2 separate regions of the Homo sapiens genome follow, and region 2 is linked to region 1. The links come from fine-mapping of genetic effects on gene expression. Tissue or cell type: whole blood. Region 1 holds a variant in brackets; the other region holds the start of a gene. All regions are shown on one strand. Distances are from middle to middle.

The links. PIP is the estimated chance that this variant, and not a neighbour inherited with it, causes the effect.
Region 2: it holds the start of SECTM1, and the variant in region 1 is fine-mapped to the expression of SECTM1 in whole blood (INTERVAL, PIP above 0.99).

The regions. Positions count from the first base shown.
Region 1 is chr17:82,352,423-82,360,520 of GRCh38, reverse strand. It overlaps TEX19 (testis expressed 19), which reads right to left and starts at 1,274. Exons shown (of 2, transcript NM_207459.4): 1 at 1,236-1,274. RefSeq lists a silencer at 1-88 and enhancers at 3,697-4,632, 7,700-8,098. The variant T/C (reference allele first, on the strand shown) is at 3,312.
Region 2 is chr17:82,328,774-82,336,871 of GRCh38, reverse strand. It overlaps SECTM1 (secreted and transmembrane 1), which reads left to right and starts at 3,106. Exons shown (of 5, transcript NM_003004.3): 1 at 3,106-3,172. RefSeq lists enhancers at 1,683-1,752, 3,800-4,602 and a silencer at 4,479-4,763.

The sequences.
Region 1 (8,098 bases):
AGGGAAACTGAGGGAACCTGAGGGAACCTGAGGGAAACTGGGGGAACCTGAGGGAAACTTGAGGGAACCTGAGGGAAACTGGGGGAACCTGAGGGAAACTGAGGGAACCTGAGGGAAACTGGGGGAACCTGAGGGAAACTTGAGGGAAACTGGGGGAAACTGAGGGAAACTGGGGGAACCTGAGGGAAACTGAGGGAACCTGAGGGAAACTGGGGGAACCTGAGGGAAACTGGGGGAAACTGGGGGAACCTGAGGGAACCTGAGGGAAACTGGGGGAACCTGAGGGAAACTTGAGGGAAACTGGGGGAAACTGGGGGAACCTGGGGGAAACTGGGGGAACCTGAGGGAAACTGAGGGAACCTGAGGGAAACTGGGGGAACCTGAGGGAAACTTGAGGGAAACTGAGGGAACCTGAGGGAAACTGGGGGAACCTGAGGGAAACTTGAGGGAAACTGGGGGAAACTGGGGGAACCTGGGGGAAACTGGGGGAACCTGAGGGAACCTGAGGGAAACTGGGGGAACCTGAGGGAAACTTGAGGGAAACTGAGGGAACCTGAGGGAAACTGGGGGAACCTGAGGGAAACTTGAGGGAAACTGAGGGAAACTGGGGGAACCTGAGGGAAACTGGGGGAACCCGAGGGAAACTTGAGGGAAACTGGGGGAACCTGAGGGGAACTTGAGGGAAACTGGGGGAACCTGAGGGAAACTGGGGGAAACTGAGGGGAACTTGAGGGAAACTGAGGGAACCTGAGGGAAGCTGGGGGAAACTGAGGGAACCTGAGGGAAACTGAGGGAAATTTGAGGGAAACTGGGGGAAACTGAGGGAAACTTGAGGGAAACTGAGGGAACCTGAGGGAAACTGGGGGAACCTGAGGGAAGCTGAGGGAAACTTGAGGGAAACTGGGGGAACCTGAGGGAAACTTGAGGGAAACTGAGGGAACCTGAGGGAAACTGAGGGAAACTTGAGGGAAACTGAGGGAACCTGAGGGAAACTGAGGGAACCTGAGGGAAACTGAGGGAAACTTGAGGGAAACTGAGGGAACCTGAGGGAAACTGAGGGAAATTTGAGGGAACTTGGAGAACCTTAGGGAACCTGAGGGAAACTGAGGGAAATTTGAGGGAAACTGAGGGAACCTGAGGAATCCTGGCCCCGCTTCAGCCTCCCAACCCCTCACCCAGCACCAGGCCGTGTCTCCGAGACCCCTCCTCAGAGACCCCTCCTCGGGAGATCTCACCATCCTGGTGTCTCTGTTCATGTGGGCACCCAGGGAAAGGAGGAGGCAGAGCCCATTTGGGTATATAAAGGGCCATTTCCCATGGTGCTCTGGGCTCATCTGCATATCTCCCATGAGCCTCAGTTTCCAGGAAATGAAAGTGCTGAGTCACCAGCTCCCTCCAAGGAGGGCCATGTGCAGCCCCTGGGCACCTGCAGGAAGGCCCTGGAGAGGCAGCTCCTCTGGGGGCTGGAGATTGGGGTGGGTGCTCTCCGTCTGCAGGCTGGCACAGGGTGAGCATCCAGCCTGTGGTTGCTGGCCCGTCGTGGGCACGACGTCCTGGTCCTGCCGCGTTTGTAAAACGTGATCCCTGCTTTGCTGTCTCTGTCTTAAAGTTCTCTGAATTTTAAGAACCAGCCAATTGTCAATTAGTTATTGTTTAAACACATTTTCCCCTTTGTGGTTCATCTCTTCGCTCTTTAAACAAGACGCTTATAAATTAACACTTGTTTTTTCAGTAGACTCTATTTTTTACAGCAGTTTTAGGTTCATAGCAAAATTGAGCCAAAAGCATGGAGCTCTCCCACCGCTCCCCTGCTCCTGCAGGTGCACAGCCTTCCCCAGTCCTCCCGTCCCAGCCATTTGTTACACGTTGTTATTATCATCATCGCCCTCTGCAGTTTCCATTATGCTTTCCTCCGGTGCTGTGCATTCTGCAGGTTTGGACACATGTATAATCATGCAGACCCACCACTCTAATATTGTACAGACGGGTTTCTCCGCCCCGATTCATCTGTGTTCTGCATTTTCATCACTCCCTCTCCCAGCCCCTGGCAACCAGGAATCTTTTGACTGTCTCCTTAATTTTGCCTTTTCCAAAATGTCACAGAGCTGGACTCATACATTATGTAGCCTTTTCAACTTCTTTTTTAGTAATACGCACTTTGGTTCTTCCATGTCTTTTGTGGTTTGATAGTTCACTTCTTTTTTTTTTTTTTTTTTTTTTTGAGACAGAGTCTTGCTCTGTCACCCAGGCTGGAATGCACTGGTGAAATCACAGCTACTACAGCCTCAACCTCCTGGGCTCCTGTGATTTTCTCACCTCAGCCTCCCAAATAGCTGGGACTACAGGTGCTGGTGCACACCCCGATAAGTTTTGTATTTTTTGTGAGACAGGGCCTCACCATGTTGCCCACACTGGTATCAAACACTTGGGCTCAAGTGATCCGCCTGCCTCTGCCTCCCACAGTGCTGGGATTACAGACGTGAGCCACCTTGCATGGCCAGCTCACTTATTTTTTAACACTGAATGGTATTCCATTGTCTGGATGTACCATGGTTTATTTATCCATTCACCTATGGAAAGACATCTTGGTTGCTCCCAGGTTTGGGCAATTATGAATAAAGCTACTACAAATATTCATGTGCAGGTGTCTGTAGACATAAGTTCTCAACTCATTTTGGTAAACTCTAAGGAGTGAGATTGCTGGATGCTGTGGTCAGAGTGTGTTTAGTTTTGTAAGAAAGTGACAAATTGTCTCACACAGTGGCCCTGTGGGAGGAACCCCCAAACCCTTTCCCTACATCCCCATGACCTCTGCTCCTCCCCACCTGGCAGCTGTCTGTGCCTGGCTCAGGTCATCCACACACCTGGGGCTGCCTGCCACCCCCACCAGGTTAGGGCTCAGATCAGGGCCACCCCTCACCCTGGGGCTTCCTCGTCCCAGTCCTGGGATAGGGGCAGGTGTGGGGCTTTGGCTGCCAGGTGTCCTGCTGTGGGTGGAGAGGGCAGTGAGCTCATTCCCTAAAGACTCGGGTGCCTGAGCTGTCTGGCTGGTCCCCTCAGGTGAGAGGAAAGTAGTGGTTGAGGGACCCCACAGAGAAGCCTGTTTATGGGTCTGGGGGTCAGAGGCTCCCGGGAGGAGCCCCCAGGTCCTGGTTTTCTCTGAAAAGGCCACTCAAGGCCTCGGGGCTGAGCTGTGGCTGCCCTGGCCAGAAGGGGGCCGGGGAGGGAGCCCTGCACCTGTCGTGAACACTCAGGGCTGGGCCAGTGGGCGCCTGGAGGATGAGGTCCCTCCCACCTGGCCCCTCCCAGCC[T/C]CAGTTCTCAGGACACAGCCCAGCCGGCAGCTGCCAGAGTCACTGCCTAAAGGAGGTTTTGACCGAGGAGCAGCAGAGCCCTCTGAGGGCCCCTGTGGTAAGCAGGCTCCTCGCTGGTTTGCATGGCTTTTTCACACAGTAGTTGCGTCGAGAATTTAATATGCTGCGACCTCGTTGCCAGCAGGAGCGGTGTGGGACCGGGAAGCTGACGGGGAAGTGTTGGCGGGTGCAGGGCAGCGTCCACTCTGGGAAGCTGTGGCCAGCGCGTCCTGGCCAGCCAGGGCCTGGGCAGGGACTTGCCTCTCGGGCCTCGGCCTCACCCTGGTCTGAGAGTGTAGGACCCTCTCAAGGTCCTCAGTCACCTCAGCAGCCTGGGACGGAGCCTTTGGATCGCTTCCTGGGCAGCTGGGTACAGGAGAGGCCACTTGAGACAGATGTTGGGATGGACAGCTGGATTTGAGGCCCAGAGGGAAACCGTGGCAAGACTTGGTGGGTGGATGGTACCAGAGGAACAGGACGTGGCCATAATCGGGGAATCCAACACTCCTGTATCTCCAGAAGGACCAGGCATTTCCCCAGCTGCAGAGACCACTGATGGGGCAGCACAGCCATTGTGGGGCCAAGGCCATGACCCGGAGCCACTGGGGCCGTAAGCCTGACACCCAGATTGCCCACGAGCCAGAACCCCATCCCCACCATCCTGGGGTGCACAAGCTCTTGTGTTAGGAACGGGTGAAGAGGGGGAGCTCAGGAAGCTGAACGCAACCCAGAGGGGGTGGACAAGCAGGGACAAGGCTGCCAGATGGGCCTGGCCAAGCTCAGGGGCCCCCAGCTACCTCGGGGGTGCAGGTGCCAGCTGAGCCCTGCAGAGGAATGGGGTGAGGCCACGTCACGCTCTTTGAGCACCGGCTTCCGAGCTCAAGCGGCTTCGTCTCTGTCTCACCCAGAATGCCTCGCGCAGATCCGGGGCCCAGAGAACATTCCAGAGATGCTTGTGGAGTGGAGCAGCTTTAATAAGACACATTCTTGCTTCTCTGTTGGCTTCTTACCTGTGTCCTCGGGATGGCTGCCAAGGTGCTACCAACCTGCTGCATCCCTGGCTGAGGCTCAGAGCCTCCTGGGCTGGTGCCTTCCTGGGCACAGGATCCCCAGCAAGTCCAGGAATCTGACCTGAGGTCACCAATCATGCCCAGGGAAACCAGCCAGCCCCCAAAGCCTCCAAAACCCAAGTGGGCTTGGTTCTGTTGGCAGGTGACCCAGCTGGAATCAAACAAGAAAGAAAAGTGTGTTTAGATCATCAGGTGACTCACCAAATAGAACTTTCTTGAAAACTGTTTAATAATCAAGACCAGGAAAAGATTATGGAATATTCTAGCAAAGTCCAAGTACTTGGATTTTAAAATCAACATTTATCTTACTGCTCTTATATTACAAAGTTCCGCCCTCACCTCCAGTCTCAACGTTTGCACAAAGCATTTCAGCAGCACATGCAATGGCGTTATGGTTGGCTTTTCCCTCTCGCTCCTCCGCACAGCACTGAAGAAGGACAGGAGCAGTTTTCTTTGTTTCTTGCATGAATTTACTACTGAGGCTCGTCAGAGAGAGGCTGCCTGTGGGAGTGATGCATGGCCTCTGCTTCCACGGAGAAAAGCCACACGGTGGTGGCCAGGGGTGGGATGCGCCCGTGGACATGGAGGACAGATGTGTTCTGAGAAGCTGCCTGTTTCTTTTGTTTGTTTTTGAGATGGACTTTCACTTTTGTTGCCCAGGCTGGAGTGCAATGGCGCGATCTCAGCTCACGCCAACCTCCACCTCCCGGGTTCAAGTGATTCTCCTGCCTCAGTCTCCCAAGTAGCTGAGATTACAGGTGCCTGTCACCATGCCCAGCTGATTTTTGTATTTTTAGTAGAGATGGGGTTTCACCATGTTGGCCAGGATGGTCTCAATCTCTTGACCTCGTGATCCACCCGCCTTGGCCTCCCAAAGTGCTGGGATGACAGGCATGAGCCACCGTGCCCAGCCGAGGTGGCTTCTTTACAACAGACTATCCAGGGGACCACAGTCACCCTCCCCTCACTCCCAGCCCACCCTTCCTGCTCATTTGCTTTGTCCACCTACTCAGCTCCGTGGCCCATTGGTGGCCTCCATCCTTCTGAAGGACCAAGAAGCCACTGCCATGTGGAAGCACCTCCACGTGCCCTGGTCAGGTCTGTCACCAGTGCTGTGTGAGGATCAGAACACCCTCGACCACACTGGCTCATCATCCAAATTGTAATCATGGACTTAGAGGCTGTCCTTTTAAAAATAACTTTTGGTATTGTTTGCTTATTTCAAAGTAAACAAATTCATTATCAAACATTTAGAAAACAGGCAAGCAAATAAGAGGAAAGAACATCACCAGTCACACATTCTCCAGAGAGTGCAAAAAGCAAGGTCTCTGTATCTTACTCTCAAGTAGGAAGAATGGTTGCAGGAGAGGAAGGAAGGAGAGAGGGCCTGGGCGCTGTACCCGGCTGTGGCCAGCTCTGTCCTGAACCCTCCTGGGGTCTGTCCTGAACCCTCCTGGGCTCTGTCCTGAACCCTTCTGGGGTCTGTCCTGAACCCTCCTGGGGTCTGTCCTGAACCCTCCTGGGCTCTGTCCTGAACACTCCTGGGCTCTGTCCTGAACACTCCTGGGGTCTGTCCTGAACCCTCCTGGGGTGGGATTTCCATAAGGTGGGCATTATTATCTTCCCTGGGCTGGGCCAGAGCCTGGTTGGGGCCTGGGGCCCCATCCTGAGTCCAGAGTCTGTGACTCCTCCATAGGCCCCAGGGCCTGTGCAGTGACAGTCCCTGAGCAGCAAAAGAGCAAATGAGTGCTGGGAATTGTGGGTCCCTTCCCTAAAAAGGCAGAGGTGGTGATCCCGCCCAGCCCAGGGTCTTCAAAACTGCAGGTACATCCTTGCTGTTCTGTCAAACACATCTGCAGATAACTTGAGTCCATCTAGGGTGGGTTTCCAGGCAGCTGGGGACCAAGTGAGGGGGTGGAGGCGGCCACGTGAGACCCCAGGAAGCAGAGCCCCCACCACCCCAGGAGATTTCTTCATCCACAGTGGCAAGGGTGGGGGCTGCCCTAAGATGTCAGCAAAGACCACCATTGGGGAAGGTCTTGGACATGACTCTGAGTGGTCCCATGGGGAAAGGGGACTGGTGTCTCCTGGAGGGAGATGCTGGAAGAAGGCCAGAGAGGAAGGATGGCCAGAAGTCCCCATTTCCATAGCCCAAACCTGTGGAAACACTGCCCCTGGGCAGCTCTGTGCCCCTGGCGACCTCCTGGTATGATGCAGCTTAGAAAGAAGCTGCCTGTCTCTCCATTGCCAGCCTTTTCTGGAAGTCTGGGTGCCTTCAGGTTTGGGGATACTGAAACATCCTCCCAATATCCCAGGGCTCCTGGCCTTTGAACACCCGCGAGGGGCGGGGCAGCCACACACTTGGGGGTCACGTTCCCTGGGACTCTCCCCTCTTGGCTTCCCCCCATCACCCAGGGCCAGGGAGGCCGGGGCAGGTGCAGACCCAATCCTGGCAGTTGGCAGCGGTTTCCAGGCGCCTGCGTGACCCTGTCTGTAGCCTACAGGAGCAGGTGCTGCCTGTGATGGGGGCCCTGGGCTCCAGCAGATGTAGGAAGGTATGAGAGTGCAGCCACCCTCCTACACCCTCTCTCCCTAAGGCCTCCATAGTAGATTTAGGGTTCATGCTACTGGGTGAGATGGAGTTGAGGGAGGGCCCGCAGTTCTAAAGATCTGGGTCACACTTGGGCTATAGGGCCCTGTTAGCCATGAACTCCTTCATCAAATAAACCAAATGTGGAAGACGCATACCTGGGGCCCTGGTGCTTGATTTTGTTTTCTGCTCTCATCTCTCATCACCCTACAAAATGCATCTCCATAAAAAGACATTAAACAGCCCCGCACGGTGGCTCACGTCTGTAATCCCAGCACTTTGGGAGGCCAAGGCAGGTGGCTCACCGGAGGTCAGGAGTTCGAGACCAGCCTGGCCAACATGGTGAAACCCCGTCTCTACTAAAAATACAAAAATTAGCTGGGCATGGTGATGGGAGCCTGTAATCCCAGCTACACGGGAGGCTGAGGCAGAAGAATTGCTTGAACCCGGGAGGTAGAGGTTGCAGTGAGCCGAGATTGCGCCACTGCACTCCAGCCTGGGCAACAGAGTGAGACTCTGTCTCCAAAAAAAAAAAAAAAAAAAAAAGACATTAAATGAGACTAAGAAAAAAATGGCAAGTATTAAACATTTTGGGTAAATCAGAGCCATGTCATGCTGGCCTCACCCTCAGCCACCAGCTGCCTGCCCCCGCAGAGCCAAGCTCATTGCTGTCTGTCATCTGAGTGAGGGCACTGTGCATGATGAATAACACCTTTTTTTTGTTAAAAACAGCTTGAAATATTTACTTCAGTTTAATCTGTTCATTTTTAAATCAGAGCAAAACCAAAGTTGTGCAGAATGAGCTGGGAGATTAGGGGGCCTCAATCCTACTCCACAGGGACCCTGTCCACATGTGGCTCAATCCTGCTCCATAAAGACCCTAGCCACAGGCCGTGGCCCAACCCACATGGCCTGGACACACAGAACAACCCTCAAATCAACCCAGAAGCTCCAGATACTGGGCGTGCCCCCCACAGCCCTCGGCAACACCATAAACCCCACTTGGGGACACAATGGGGGCCACCGCCAGGCACACAAATGGCCCCAAAGGAGCATGGCCTCCCCCTCCTCTGCCCACTGGTCTGGAT
Region 2 (8,098 bases), 24 kb after region 1:
ACAGGAGATGGGGTGCAGGTGGAAGGCTCCAAGAGGCATCTGGGCTGGTAACGCGCAGACATCCCAGGTGGGTTGGAAGTGGGTCAAGGAGGCCTGGAGGACCCGGTGCCTGTGGGGGTGGCAGGCGGGCCACATCCTCCACTAGAACCCGAGGTGGCGGCGGGGTCAAGGATGACGAGTTATCTTCGGGACATTAGGAGGAAGCCCCACAGGCTGCAGTCACGTGGGTGGGCAAGGATGAAAGGCAAGGGAACCCAGAGAATCAAGTTACAAAGAAAAGCAAATGCCGCCAGCACAGTGGCTCACGCCTGTAATCCCAGCACTTTGGGAGGCCGAGGCGGGTGGATTGCCTGAGCTCAGGAGTTCAAGAAAAAAAAAGCCTGGCTAACATAGTGAAACCCGTCTCTACCAAAAATAAAATAAATAAATAAATAAAAGCTGGGCGTGGCGGCACGTGCCTGTAGTTCCAGCTACTCAGGAGGCTGAGGTAGGAGAATCGCTTGAACTAGGGAGGCGGAGGTTGCAGTGAGCCGAAATCGCACCACTGCACTCCAGCCTGGGCGACAGAGCAAGACTCTGTCTCCAAAAAAAAGAAAAGCAAATGCTCCAGGACCTTGGGGATTTTAAGAATATGCTGCCGAATAATTTGGAGAGTTAAACAGAAAATCATAACTGAAATCTACAAATTCCTCGAACAGAAAGGAAATGAAACTCCACATGTCACCTGGCACAGCAGAGGCTGTGATTCAAGGACAGGCTGAGGGTGAATGAATCCACACATCCGCTCTAAGATGCCTGATCCCAGCATTGTATAGAAATGGAAAGATACGGCCGGGTGCAGTGGCTCACGCCTGTAATCCAGCACTTTGGGAGGCCAAGATGGGCGGATCACAAGGTCAGGAGATCCAGACCATCCTGGCTAACACGGTGAAACCCCGTCTCTACTAAAAATACAGAAAAATTAGCTGGGCGTGGTGGCGGGCGCCTGTAGTCCCAGCTACTCAGGAGGCTGAGGCAGGAGAATGGTGTGAACCCAGGAGGCAGAGCTTGCAGTGAGCCGAGATTGCGCCACTGCACTCCAGCCTGGGCGACAGAGCGAGACTCCGTCTCAAAACAAAAAAAAGAAATGGAAAGATACTGCCCAGATGTGGTGGCTCACACCTGTAACCCCAGCACTTTGGGAGGCCAAGGCAGGCGGACCACCTGAGGTCAGGAGTTCGAGACCAGCTTGGCCAACATGATGAAATCCTATTTCTACTAAAACTACAAAAATTAGCTGGGCGTGGTGATACATGCCTGCAATCCCAACTACTCAGAAGGCTGAGGTGGGAGAATCAGTTGAACCTGGGAGGCAGAGGTTGCAGTGATCGAGACTGCAGCACTGCACTCCAGCCTGGGCAACAGAGACTCCGTCTCAAAAAAAAGAAAGAAATAAACGTGAGTGGATGGCTGTGCTGTTTGTATGGACCAGGAAAACTTCTAGAAGGATAGGTAAGGCAGTGTCCATAACTCAACCTGGGAATTGAAGCCAGGGTGGGGAGGAAAAGGCAACAGTTGGTTTCATTCTATTTTGTTTCTGTGCCTGTATTACTTCCAAAATAAACAAACTAGTTTCACTTTCACAACATGAAATGCTTTATCAGGATATGCGTTTTCCTCCAACCCCCAGTGGTGTCCCCTCACGGGACAAAAGCCTGCCAGCCTTCAGCTGCCCTCCAGAGCCTCACGGTGCAGGTGCTCCTGCCTAAGCAGCCGGACCCCCCTGCCCCCAGGAACTGCAGCCCCCTCTGAGTTGAGAGATCTAGTAGGCAGGAAAAAAGGAGAAGGAAGCTGTGGCTGCTGGGGGATGTGGCCTCGGGGACAAGCCCCTCTGTGCAGAGGACGTGGGCAGGTGGGATTTCAGCCCCCTCTCCAGCATCTCACTGGCAGCCAGGGTGGCTGGGGTTTCCCCGAGGGCGGGGGCTGGGGAATCTGACCTCTGTGCCCCGGCCATGGTGCCGTCTTGCTGGGAGGATGACAGGCTGTGTTTCACCTGCCAATTTGGCGACAGTTTCTCTTTTGGAACATCCCGGGGGACTTTGTTCTGTGCCACCCACCTCTGGACCCTGGGTCTGATGGCTGAGCTGCAGGCTCCAAGGTTCAGCGTCCAGTCTGGCCCTGCTCCGTCCATTCCCCACATTTGAGGGTTTCCCGGAGTTTGGTTCTGCTTCTTCCTCTCTTCCATGAAACTGGGGGCATTGCCCACGCCCCAGTGTCCCCCATCATCTGCCCGGTGGGGACTTGCCCACTCACGTGACTGCAGCCTGTGGGGCCTCCTCCTAGTGTCCCGAAGATACCTGGTCATCCTTGACCCCGCCCGCACCTGCCCGCGTGCCCCCTCGGGTTCTAGTGGAGGACGTGGCCCGCCTGCCACCCCGCCAGGCGCCGGGTCCTCCAGGCCTCCTCGAGCCACCTCCTGCCCACCTGGGATGTCTGTGGGTTCCCGGCCCGGATGCGTCTTGGAGCCTTCTACCCGCACCCCAATCTCCTGCCCCAACAGGCTGGGCCCCTCCTCCCGGGCTGGCCAGGCCAGCACCTCCGCAGGGGCCGCAGGACGCCTGAAGGCCCAGGCCGCAGGTGCAGGACCCTCTGCGGGGGAGCTGGGGGACATCACTCCTCTGCTCTGCGCGCTTTTATGAAAGGGCCTCTGACCCTCCGGGGGTCCAGCTCACTCTGCCCGCGCACTCCCAGGCATCTGGGGGCCGCCCCCCGCCCTCCCTCCCCGCGGCCCACTCGGCCCGCCCAGCTCGCCCCGTGCACAGACTCGAGGCCTCCAGGAGCGGAGCCAAACAGCCCCGCGGGGAACGCGCGCCGCACGCGAGCTGGACCCGCCCAGGCACGAACTCTCCTGGAAAAATGCTCCCGGCGGCTTTCCTGCTTCCTTTAGCGTGAACCGCGGGTGCGGTGCCTCCCGTGAAAATAATAAATTCACCGTCACGCTTGTTGTGAACGCGGGTGGTTCCCGAAACTTGGAGGCTTCCCGTAAACCCAGCTCCTTCCTCATCTGGGAGGTGGGTCCCGCGCGGGTCCGCCGCCTCCTCCCTGGCCCCTCCCTCTCGTGTCTTTCATTTTCCTGGGGCTCCGGGGCGCGGAGAAGCTGCATCCCAGAGGAGCGCGTCCAGGAGCGGACCCGGTGAGGCGCGGAGAGGGGCGGGCGGGGGAACCAGAGGGGCGGGCTCGGTGCTGGGGACTCGGTGCTGGGGACTCGGTGCTGGGGACTCGGTGCTGAGGGCCCGGTGCTGGGGACTCGGTGCTGGGGGCTCGGTGTTAGGGCCTCTTGGTGCACTGGGGTTGCCGGTCCGCGCAGGGATGGGGACTCTGGGGCTGCGGCGCCTCTGCCTCTGGGACCGTCACCCCCCGCTGGCCCTGAGCGTGCGTCGCAGGCCAGGCGGGCGGGGTCGCAGCGGGCGTACCCGAGTATGGGCGGGAACGAGCTGCCGGCCGGTGTGGGGACCCGCGTCCCTGCCCTGTGCGCCAGGCTCGACTCTTGAAGGGACAGAGGCGGCGTCTCGGACCCGGGGCTCCCCTAAGTCCGATGGGTCGGAGCCCCCTCCTCCCTTCCCGGTCCTCGGCCTCACCCGGGGTTCCCTGCGCCGTCGCTGCGACCAAGCTGGGAGCAAAACGCACTCGCTCATATGCGTGCACACAAGCTGGTGGACACACGCACATGAGCACACGCAGGCACGCGTGGACTGTTGCACACTCCACAGCCACAGCCTCGTGTGCACTCACAGCAAACTCATGAAACAGGAACCGTGAGGCTTCCCTCACCCGGCAGGCCCTCAGCTGCCCGTTCTCACGCGGGTTTTGCTGACTCCGCAGTAATCACCACATTCAGTTCCTTGCCCACTACTGGTGAATCACCTGCAGCTTGAGAAGCACGTTTTCTGCCGGTGGTCAGCAGAGGATCCCCGGCTTCTAGGAGGCCCAGGGCGACCGGCTGCAGGAGCCCGCGTAGGAGGCCTGTCTCCAGCAGGGCGGGGGTGGTGGCAGGGCCTCTCCACGGGGCTGCTGCTGAGCCCAGAGCGGGAGGACAGGAGGCCACCAGCAGAGGGGACAGGTGAACAGGTGCTGAGCAGGAAGGGTTAGCCCGGTCTAGCCCCAGGCCTGGGGGGCTTTGCTGCTCACCTGGGGTCCCCTCTGGGCCTGGCTCAGCAGAGACCAGGGCAGAGCCGTCCACACCGTGGGCCTGGGTGGGGTCCATGGCCTCTGCAGGCTGCAGCTGTCTTCTGAGAGGTGTTGGTGTGCTCATTCTCGGTAGAGACGTGGGGTCACCTGTGTTCCCTGAGCCCCTGCAGCAGCTGGGAAAGCAGTGTCAGCCACCCCTCAGGTGCTGTGGGGGTACAGAGTCCACTGACCACACAGGAGGACCCCAATGAACCCAGCCCGAGGGGGCCGGAGCTTCCACACACCCAGCACCCATGGGAGCCGGGACAGGCAGGCGCCCGGGGCACCAGGGAGCGGGAACAGGCATGCGCAGGCGTGCTGGGCGGTGCGTGAACTTTCCTAGGCGTGTCACTGGCATGGCTCCAAGCCTGCGCATCATCGCTTGTCAGGGAGCACTCAGACCCTGCCGTGTCTGGTGCCGGCGCCTCAGATACCGACCCCTGTGTTCGTGGTTTGAGAGAAATCTGATTGCCGCCTCCATCTTTTCCCGCTCTAGAAGTTTGTTTTTTGTTTTGTTTGGTTTGAGACGGAGTTTCGCTCTTGTTGCCCAGGCTGGAATGTAGTGGCCAGATCTTGGCTCACCACAACCTCCACCTCCCTGGTTCAAGCGATTCTCCTGCCTCAGCCTCCCAAGTAACTGGGATTACAGGCGTGCACCACCACGCCCGGCTAATTTTTTTGTATTTTTAGTAGAGACGGGGTTTCACCACGTTGTTCAGACTGGTCTCAAACTCCCGACCTCAGGTGATCCACCTGCCTCAGCCTCCCAAAGTGCTGGGATTGCAGGCATGCGCCACCGCGCCCGGCCCACTCTAGAAGTTTTGAGGCTCCGTGCGCCTCGTCTCCCTGTACCTGGTCTCCCTGTGCCAGGTCTCCCTGTGCCACACACGGAGCTGCCCGGCCAGTCACCGCCCACCTGGCCACTTTCCCTGGGGCCGCGCCCTGCCGCCTGCCCTCTCTCTGATTTTTAGCCACTGCGTGGCATTCAACTCAAGCCCACGCCTCTGGTCAGGAGGATGGCAGGAGAGGACTCAGGCAGACGGGCAGAGTGGCAGAGCTGCCAACAAAAACGCAGGATACCCAGTAACATCTGAGTTTGAGATCGTTAATCGTGTTTTAATATAAGTGTGTCCCGAGTGTCCCACGGGACAAGCTTTCACCAGGACATCATTGGTTGTTTATCTGAGACTCAGATGTGACCAGATGTGCCTGGTGACCTGAGAGGGGCCTGTGTTGCCAGGGTGCGTTTTCTTCTGATAAACGGAGCAAATTCCCACAGCAACCCAAAGTCGCTGACACCTGCTGCCCAGACAGAGCTGGGGCCACGCATGGTCCGCAGCCTGAAGCCTCGGGGTAGAGCCAGACCTGCCGCTCTCCTCCCGGTCTCCCCCCAGCTCCCTACCCCCTGAGCCCTTCAAAGTCATTCTCAAGCCAAAGACAGGGGTCTTCCAGGCCCAGGGCTCCCCTCCACGGCTGACTCATTCCACACCTTTCCCGCCACTTGCCGGGTGTGGACCGACAGGAAGGGCACCGCCACCTGCTCCTAGTACCCTCCAGCCCATCCCTTGCCGCCCTTCACCCCTGGCTGGACAAGGGTCAGGGTCGCCAACATTGGAGGGCACTCAGTGGGGAGCTGGTGAAGGTGCTGGGAGGAAGGGAGGACCGGGGAGAGGCAGTGAGAGGACCCGCGTGTGAGAAGCAGCGGCCGCCACCACAGTTGGGCTAAAGGGACTTGGTGGGGAGGCAGCATCTCCGGAACGGTGCAGTCCAGGCCGCCAGGGGCTGAGACCATGGAGAGGATGAGGCCAGAAAGACGGACAGTGCCAGCTTCTCACTCCCACCCCCCTCTCCCCAACCACTGCAGCCCAGGGCCCCAGGTCTTCAGGAAGCAATCGGCAGGGAGGCTAGGAGCCAGCACTGCAGGGTCCACCCTCGGTGGCAGAGGCATCTAGGAGCAGCTGTAGCCCCCGAGAGCAGAGGCTCCACCGAGCTGCTGGCCCCATGGAATGCACAGCGGGCAGACTTGGGACACTCAGGGTGGAGGGGAGGCAGATGCAGCCACTGCCAGGCGGGAGGAGCTTGGCATGAAGCCAGGTGCGTGCAGCTGGCCCTTGGGGGCCTCCAGGACCCAGCTGCTGAGGTCTGGCTCAGGGTGCAGCTCTCTGCCGAGTCAGGGCTGACTCAGGACACAGACGGGTGGCAGAGCCAGCACCTGGGTGGGCAGGTGGGGTGGACGCAGCGCTGTCGGGGCTCTCTGGGGATCTGTGACCTTTGGCTGTGTGCCCAGAATTCCCACCCCTAACACATGGCAGGGGCAGTCCCTGGAAGCATTTGTGAAACAGACTCAGATGGCCTCCAGGCTCCAGGTGAGGGCAGGACTCCCCAGAGCAGCCTGGGGAGAGCAGCAGGGCATCCCCTCCCGGACACGGTCGGCGGGGTGGTGCGGAGAGCAGTGGGGGAGCCCCCAGCAGCCCCGACCCTCCCTGCTGTCCATCTGCACGGTTCCAAGGTGGGTGGCTGAGCTGGCATCGTGGAGCGTGGGGTGAGGGAGCCGGACCCAGGCCCCCTGGGGTCTCCTTGTGTGAACCTCACCTCCATGCAGGGGTCTGCAGGTGGCCTGGGTCTCCCACCGCACTGGGGGTGGGGGTTCTGTGGTCGGCTACCAGTCCCCAAAGATGTCACGTCCTCATCCCAGAACCTGACATGGCAAAGAGACTATGCAGATGGGATGAAGCCTCGGGTGCTGAGCTGGGGCATGTGTCCTGGGTCACCCAGGGGGGCCCTTGATGCCATCACAGGGTCTCCAGGAGAGGGAGAGAGGAGGGGGAGTCAGGGAGATGAGGGAAGCAGCTGGGGGGCAGTGGTGGGGAGATGGCAGAGGGGCCATGAGCCGAGGGATGCGGATGCCTCTGGACGCTGGAGACGGAGAGGGACAGATTCCGCCTGGAGCCTCCAGAAGGGACCACCCTGACCCACCCCTTGATTTTAACCCAGGGAGACCCCGTCGGACTTCCAGCTAATCTAGAATGCTGGACGTATGATGGGAGATGGGGCCCGAGCCTGTCTCCAAGCCCATCTGAGCAGCCCTGAGGGGTCACAGCAGGAAAGGGGGTGTTAGTGAGGGGCCACAAAAGGTCTCAGGTGTGGGTTCCCTCCCCTTGCACTCAGCCCTGACAGGGTGGGGTGGGGTTTCCAACAGAAGGGACTGGACTTGTACTGAGCATAGCGGCTGCCTGGAGTGGGGAACCCAGACCTCAGGACACGGCACCCGCAGCCTGCGCCAATGTGGGACCATCCCTGAGCCTCAGCAGCACCTCGGGGTTGGTGACGTGCCTCCCAGCAGTGACAGTGTCCCCACACCTGCACTCTGCGGCTGGCAGGGTCTTCCACGTGGAGGCAGGACCATGGTGAGAGTATGGGAATGACCGGGTGGCTGCCTGTGGCTGTGCAGGGCCCAGGGATGACTAGAGGCATGTTCACAGGGGGTTGGAGCGCTTGGGGCAATGGGACGAGAAGGCCGGAGCCCGTCTGCAAGCCAGGTCCTCAGCAGGCCCAGACTCCAGGCTCCAGGAGGACCCCTGGTAACATGGGGTCCCCGGGGTTGGTGACGTGTCCTGCTGTGACACTTTCTGGTGGTTTATTTGTTTGGAGAAACACACATCTATAAATCTATAGACATCTATAAATAGCACGTCTGAAGGTCGCTTTACAGAGTTCCCTCATGGGAGTTCCCTGCAGGTCATCTGCACTCCGGCGTGTGGGCTGCACTGGGAGCTGGGAGAGGCAGGGCTGGAGTTGCCGCCCTACCTAGGGACTTTTCCTAGCAGGGGTGCAGGCACCCGAGAGGCAGGGCAGCCTGGCCACGAACCCTTGCCCCAGCCGCCTTCGAAGG